Linked DNA regions of Homo sapiens. The protein of the gene in region 2 interacts with the protein of the main gene of each other region in a pairwise test. Each region holds a gene or a part of one and is shown on either strand. Other genes may lie near its edges. The genes, in order: RNF24 and TRPC6.

Region 1 (4,119 bases), on a different chromosome or scaffold from region 2:
GATGACTAGGAGCAGAAAAAGTACTCTCACTGTTCCAGCTTCCAGCCCAATCCTAGCAGAATGAATGCATTTTAAAACCAGTCCACATTCACATGTGCTGAGAAGGTTGTTAGTGGTCCCTCATCTGGGCAAAGCAGACCCAAGGTGGTGCTGAGTGCAGAGTGCAGAGCATTCTTGTGCTCTCCTCTCATGGCTGGAACTATCTGGGCTTTGCGCCCTGGTCCAGTGCTACGTATCAACCCCCTCAACATGCCTGTGGCTCTGACACGGGGGGATGAATTAACTTGCCTCTGTTCAAATATACAGACTTGGTGAGGCTGTCTTTTGTTAGTACTGATGCACAGGGACAGAAAAAGCCTGCAACTTTCAGTTGGGAGAATCCTATAAAAGCTGTGAGCAGCAATAATTTGCAGTATTGATCATAGGAAGGGAAAAAACATTCTCTTTCCTATTAGAGCCCCATAACAGAGGTGACATCTGTCCCAAGGCCATTCCATGGAAAATGGTGGCTGCTGGCAATTAGTGAGGCTAGTCCAGAAGCAAGCCTCCTTCTGATATTGGTCACTGAAAACAGCTCACTATAAACGGGGTGTTTTGTGGCATTCAACTCTGTTGTGCTACAAATAGAGAATGCAAAAAGACGGTGAAAGTAGGAGTGCATAAATAGTTTTTTTCATGGGTGCCAGACAGGCTAAGGCTTTCATATAAAAATATTCCTCACTTTCCTCGTCCTGTTTAGGAAGCAGTCCAGTTGGCATACCACGAATAGGTCACACATAGGAAATGGCCTATTTTGACCAACTGGATTTGTAATTTTCCAAACCGGATTCTGTCCAGCACTGTTCTACACTAATGGAAATTTTCCTCCTCATGCCCAGCCATCTGAACCAAGGACAGGTTCCTTCTCCTAAGAGGACAGAGGTTGGATTCCAGAAAAAAATCCTGGAGTCATGCCAAGAGCAGAGTAGCAAAGCTCCCTCCATCCATTCTCCATGTCACGCAGACTGTATTCCTAATGAAAAACTTCCCCCACTCACACCTGTGGGATGGAGTGGAGCAAAGCAGTTGACGAGGAATTGAGGCAGGCGCTCCTAAGATGGAGGGAGGCGGAGAGCAGGGCTGTGGAAAAGAATTTTCCATCTGACCTGCTACTTTCCATAGCTAATTTATACAATATTCACAAATCTTAATGGACTTTGAGTCATTTCTAGAAAAGTTGGACAGAAAGAGCCAAAGAGCAGCATGCGTTTCTCTCCTATAAAGACACTTTCACTTTCAGTTTCGGAAGTCCAAATACTGAGGCACACACCAACGGTGGACAGCCCTGCAGGAGCTTCCTGAAACTATCTACAATTCCAAGTGGATCACCAGCTTCAGAATTACACAGGGATCTTATTTGGGATAAAGTGTTAAAAAGTGAATGACAGGCTTTTTTTTTTTTTTTTTTTTTTTTCTGAAGTAGAAAGAGAGATAGGGCAAGAGAGAGAAGAGATGGAAGGAGGGGGAGAGGCCAAAGGGTCGGCATTCCCTTCATCCAGCCGGGCCAGAAGTATGGGCCATTCTCAAAAAGCCACTGCTCTTTGGAGCCACTCGAGAGGTTCACAGTGGCTCCCTTCTGAGGCAGTGGCAGTGGGCTCACAGCAGCTACACTGGAACCACAGTGCACATGTGGGGATGTGGGCAGCCTCCTGGATCACTCAGGGACAGTGTGGACTCAGGGCCCACTCCCTGCTGGGGCTCTGGACGGGCCTTACTGGTGCATAGGAGAGGGAAATGATAAGAGGAAATGGCTTCTGACTAGGCCTTTCCAAGCGCATCTCATGTTTTCAGCTTAGATGATTTGATAGCAGGTGTTGTAATCCTGAGGGGGAAATGGGTGACGAGGAACACTGCTACTCAAAGCCAAGATGGCCTTATCAAAGGCATACAACATGAGCCTTGTGGGCACTGCCTCACCAACCACTGGTGGCTGGTTGTGCTGGTTTTACTTGGCTCAAGGGCTGCTGGGAAGGTTTGCTGCGACAAAGGCCTGCATGGCCTACAGAGAAACCCATCCATCCGCAGGTGGGGGTGTGGCTTGAAAGACCTGCTCTTAGTTCCCTTCTTTACCCTCCTGCTTGACATGGAGATGAGGCTCCAGGAGAGAGAGTGTAATGGAGTTAGTAAGAGACCCTCATGAAGTTTCTTGAGGCAAACCCGCAGGCTCATCCACTCCTCTTCTCTCGGCAGGGGGTAGTGTCAAAGTGCTTTGGTTGTCACAAGACCCAGACACCTAGGTTCCCAGTTTGGCTGGCCCAAGAGTTCTTCATGAGGCAAAAGAAGTGGCAGCTGGTGTCCTAGGTAGAGAGCAGCCATACAGACACCACATGTGTTCCTCCTGGCTCCACACAGACGTCGTGTCCAGCAACAGTCTGATCCTTGCGGTAAGCTATACAATGTTCTCTGCCCCAGGAAGGGGCCCCTGAGGGGGTCCACGGTCCTGCTTACTGTGCAACTGGGCCAGCTGTAGAACTGGCATGTTGCACAGGGGACACACTTTACGAACCTCCAGCCACTTAATAAGGCACCTGCAGAAGGAGACACCACAGGGGGAAGATGTCAGTCCTATGCTCATGGCACGGCTGTTCTGCTGAACATCTCCATATCTGTCACCCAGACAACGTCTGCTGTATGGTCCAAGGAGCTCCCCTCCTAGGTGGTGAACGGATGTCACCCCCTGGAGAGAGGGAAGAGACAGAGAGAAGGAGTGGGGAGAGGCCAAGGGGTCAGCAATCCCCTCTTCCTTCCAGAGCCTCCCATCTTCCACGTGTGAAGCCACAGATAGTATGTGATACTCTCAGTTACCCATGACTTCTTACAAGAACAAAATACACTGAGCAGGGATGTGAGAAGTAGGAAAATAAATTTTTCTAACAGAAATACAAAACAAAAAATTATAAGAGGAAGAATATTAATATGTCTGCAGGAAGTGGGAGGAGAGTGCCCCACACTACCATTTATATCCAGACTTTATTTTGATTTTAAATAACTATGGTTTTGATTTAAATAAGTTTTTAGGAGATGAGGCTCTCAGTGGAAAGTTCCAGCTAAATAGCTGTTTATTGCTTGGGCTCCAAGTGTAGGCTCATTTTGGCTCTCTGCCCATAGTCCTGACGTGGTGGTCACGTTCCACCACTCTGCTGTCTCCTAATGTCACGCACACACACACACATCCCACCTGTAGGGTGCTGTCAGCTTTCTGCATTACAGACCAATCATGAAGCCATCAAGCTTGTCTGGCACTGCCCTAAAACCCAAAAGAAGTTGGTTGATGTGCCTCAAACTCGGGTCCCATTAAGTAATTCCATACCAATACTTACTTTCTGTGGAAGGCGTGCTTACATGGGCAAATCCCCAACTCATCTCGAGGCTTGAAGTCTTCTAGGCACACTGCACAGAGCTGAAAGACAAATGCACAAATGAAGCCAAGTGTCTGTTAAGTACCCTCCCAGGTACAAAGTAGAGTGCAGGCTCCTAAAGGCTCAACCGTTTGAAGGGACTCATGAGACTCTTATCTTAAAAAAAAAAGAAATGAATGAATAAATGACTGAAAAGAAACAGGCCAAAATAGATGAATGTCTCCTGCTCTTCCTGTCCCATATCTTCAAGGAGGTGGGCAGATGGGAGAAGACAGAAAGCAAGAGGCAGCTGCCTTTACTTCAGTGCATCAGAAGTGTGGGACCGAGGGAGGGTTACTCTCACATCTGCCAGCTTAGCCTGCTGTCCCTTTCCTGGTGTGCCGAAAGAGCTGAGGCTCTCTGGGTTCTCCACCTTGTCAGCAGCACAGCCTGGCTCCCAAGCACTCACTGAAAGGGACCGCTCAAGCCCTGGCAATCTTTTCTCCTGTTTTTATGCACAGCTTGCAGTAACATGCTATTTATAGTTCCTGGGGCCTCCCACTTTGGCACTGTCCTTCTGTCAGTGTCTCTGTCATATAAAAAGTTACTGAAGACTCAGTTAACTCATGAACATGTGCAGATGGGACCAGGACTGCTCTCAGCCAATGACTAGTCTCCATGGCTTGGAGAGAGGCCTTTGCCATCGTACCCAGGGGCTGGGTTCCAACACTTTCCTGGGCAT
Region 2 (3,600 bases):
TGGGTAGAAAACCTTTGAATATTACTTTTCCCATGAATGTTTTCCCCATACTTGGTGTTGCCAAAGAGATTACCTTGGCACTGTTTAACTAAACGTTTATTGATTAATTCATTCAAGCATCAAAGCTAATGAATACTTACAGATAGCAGTTGCCACAAACAAATTTTAGGAAGAATATCTTATTGCTAGGTATAGTAACTAGAAAATTATAAGAATTTTAAATCATGGCTCCACATGTTGAAAGATCAAAAAGGAAGGCTGTTAAATCAGAAAGAACAGACTTCAGAATGATGCAGGTTGTTTGTTTCCCCAGGGAAAATGTTCTTTCCAGGGCCAAGAGCATTTTCTTATTTTTTCTATATTCCTTCCATCCATCCATCCATCCATCCGTCCATCCATCCATCCATCCACCCACCCACCCACTCACCCACCCAAGCATGCATGCATGCACCCTACACACCTGTGTCAAATACGAAGCTGGATCCTCAGGACACAGTGGTTTCTGCTCTCTCTGAGTTTCAGTTCTAAATTTAAAGGCAAACTCAGAAGTTTCTAAATGTGTGAGCTCTTTTCCCTTCTATCAAATCAATTGCATTTTCCCACACTTCCAACATTCATTTTGTTGTCCACCTGTTCATGGGAAGCAAAGGCACCTTTGCAGACAGATTTCAGTCTGGCTTTCTTTCATCCAATTGCAATGGGCCTCTGATCTTTTCATGGCTGGCTGCTTGCCATGCATGTCTCAACTTAACGAGCACCTCCTTGGAGGGGCCTCTTTTAACCATCTCATCTGAAGTAGTCATTCACCAGCTGCCATCACATCAACCTGTTTTATTTTCATTGTAGCATTTGTCCTTGATATTTTTTCATTTGCTTATTTAATTGGTCCCCCTTTCTGCCACGAAAGCTCTATGAGGGCAGACAGGTGCCTCATCTGCTTCTTTGCCTCCGAATTCTGAAATGATTTGAAACGCAGTTGGCATTCATTAAATATTTGTTGACTTAATGAATGGATTCTTAATTGGCTACTACTGCTTAAAGGTCTACAAATACTGATTCATCCTTGTTGACAAGTTTTTACTTCTCACACGTATGCATATTAATCAGAATTTAAAACTAAGTCTTAAAAATAAAACAGCTTGGAAACGTGGGAAACATCTGGCAGAGAAATCATTCTTGCATTCGCAGTGACGGAAGGAAAATTTTTTCTCTGAAGTAAGCAGGTTGTTGGCCTCTTTATCGGTATCATTGGAAAATGCTTGCCTATTTTTGTTGGTTTTCTCAGGAACTGGGAACATCTGGCGTTTGGAACATAGAACGTTGTTCATTTTTAAAGCAGAGTCATAATAACTTTATGAGTTGAGGGTAAGAGAGAAAATGACCAAAGAAAATGAAGGCAGTCTGGAGAAAGAAGAGGCTCGTGTCCCTTTTAAGGAACAGGTTTCCTTGGCTCTTTGAGAGTGGTTCTTAAAGGAAGCTTCCTACGAAGTCCGCAGTTGGTATCCTTACTAAATGAGCCAACTAAATAGTGGAGGGGAAAAAAAGAGTGCGTGCCTGGCTCCTCCTAGTTCAGGCTCATACCGCCTCCTGAAAGTTGTGGCTACAGGACAGGCTTTGGCTGCTTTCTAGAACGTCGCTCGGATCCCTTTAAAGGTGGGGATCTTGACGGAGAGTGCGGGGGATGAAGGCGGGAGCTGAGGGCTGGAGAGTCTCTGTTGACATAGTAACTCTTCAGCTCCGTCTCCCTTGCTCTCCGCTCTTACGCTTCGCTACCACCAGCGGCCCCGCCTGTGCCCTCTCTGCCCGGGCGCCCCAGACGCATCCTCGCGGGGTCTCCTCGGCCTGACCTGCTCAGGTCAAGATCCTCTTTGCACCCCCTTAAGTGGTGACTTTTCCCCGGGCCAGTGGGCGAGCCACTTGCGGCGGGCGTCTGCACCCCCTGCTTCACCGTCGTCCCCTGGGCACCGGTCTGCCCAGGTCCAGTTCGGCCGCTGACGCGAACCCTCCGCACCGGGTCCCCGCTGGAACTGCCCACTCGGCTCCCCCGGGAGCGGGGCCCAGGCCAGTCGGGCGTTCCCGCCATGAGCCAGAGCCCGGCGTTCGGGCCCCGGAGGGGCAGTTCTCCCCGGGGCGCTGCCGGAGCCGCTGCGCGGCGCAACGAGAGCCAGGACTATCTGCTCATGGACTCGGAGCTGGGAGAAGACGGCTGCCCGCAAGCCCCGCTGCCTTGCTACGGCTACTACCCCTGCTTGTGAGTGCCGGCGACGCGGGGCGGATCGGGCGCGGGCTGCGCGGAGGGAGGTTGTGCGCTCGCAGGAGTGGCCGAGTCCGTCCGCGCGCGTCCTGAACCCGCGTGTGTACCTCCTAGGACGGTGCTGGGAGGTCCGCGAGAGCCAGGGCTGGGACCTGAGTGAGTGGAGGGGCGCGCGGGGAGTGGGGGAGGCGGGGTTGTCTAGGTTTGCTCCTCGTAGGTACGCATGGATATGTTTGCCCACGAGAGTGAGACCGCATAGTAACACCACCATTGCAGGTGATTAGATGGGTGGTCGATTTCTCCAGACCCCTTCATCCTGCGCTCTACAAGAGACAGGATCGCTACGTAACAGGCGGGATCTGAACAGGGGGCTGATTCAGATGTGCGCCCGGGTGACTCTTAGCCTATGTGGGGGAGAGATGACTAGAACTCCAAGGGTTGGAGCTGCCTGGGTGCTGGGTGCGCCCGGCGGTCTCCACGCTTGGCTTAGCGTTTCGGGCTGAGCGCTGAGGTCCTTGGACCGTGGGACAGCCAAAGTTAGACCAGGACCTCTCCCCGGTCCTGGGGCCTTGGAGTGAAGACAGAAATAGAACCAATAGGACTCTCCACCGGCGGCGCGAACCTTTTCACCCGGGGCGTCTGGGGAGACGAGCCTGTTAGGGGCTGGGAGACTCACGGGCTATAGAAGTGAGGGCGTCGGGTCGTTTGTATTGGGCTGTGGGTAACTGCAAGCTTTTGTTTATGAATCTAGGGTATTTTTTTTTTTAGCTGGGTGGGTGGCGGGAGGGGAGGTAGGGAGTAAGCAGAGTGGACTCCAGAAGAAAAGACTCCGCTTCCCCGACACCGCTGTGACCACATGTGCAGCGGGCAGATAGCATTTCTGTCCCATTGCCCCTTTGGGTGATTGGGTAGTCAAGTTTCCTGACTTGTCACATCCACCCGCAAGCGGTTTCCCGAGGTTCTCAGCTCTATAAACAGCTTTAGTTGGAGGGAGGATTCCACCCCATAGGCGCCTGGCAGACCCTCCTGATAGATGGGTGCTGTGTCAGGGCTGCCCAGCCTCAAGCCCTGCTGCGGTGCCCTTTCGAAGTAAGAGGTGAGCCGCAGTAAAGGGAGCATCTAACTTTTCTCAAAGATAAAGGAGAATAGTTAGAACTGGTTTCATTCATCTGTGTGCTGTGCAAGTTAAGAGCATTTACAATTATGTATATGTTTTTCTTTTTAAAAGTTCAAGACATAATTCCCATACCACGTAATTCCCCCATTTAACTTGTACAATGCACTATTTTTAATATATCCATAAAGTTGTACAGCCACCACTAATATCTAATTCCAGGACAATTTCA

Evidence for each region.
Region 1: the proteins of TRPC6 (region 2) and RNF24 interact in a two-hybrid assay, tested with the Homo sapiens proteins (one study listed by BioGRID).

The regions. Positions count from the first base shown.
Region 1 is NC_000020.11:3,931,635-3,935,753, forward strand, and holds part of RNF24 (RING finger protein 24), read right to left. Parts: intron 3,440-4,119; coding exon 3,360-3,439; intron 2,568-3,359; coding exon 2,429-2,567; 3' UTR 1-2,428. UniProt on the Homo sapiens protein: May play a role in TRPCs intracellular trafficking.
Region 2 is NC_000011.10:101,581,985-101,585,584, reverse strand, and holds the start of TRPC6 (short transient receptor potential channel 6), read left to right. Parts: upstream 1-1,577; 5' UTR 1,578-2,081; coding exon 2,082-2,251; intron 2,252-2,317; exon of another isoform or gene 2,318-2,410; intron 2,411-3,600. UniProt on the Homo sapiens protein: Forms a receptor-activated non-selective calcium permeant cation channel. Probably is operated by a phosphatidylinositol second messenger system activated by receptor tyrosine kinases or G-protein coupled receptors.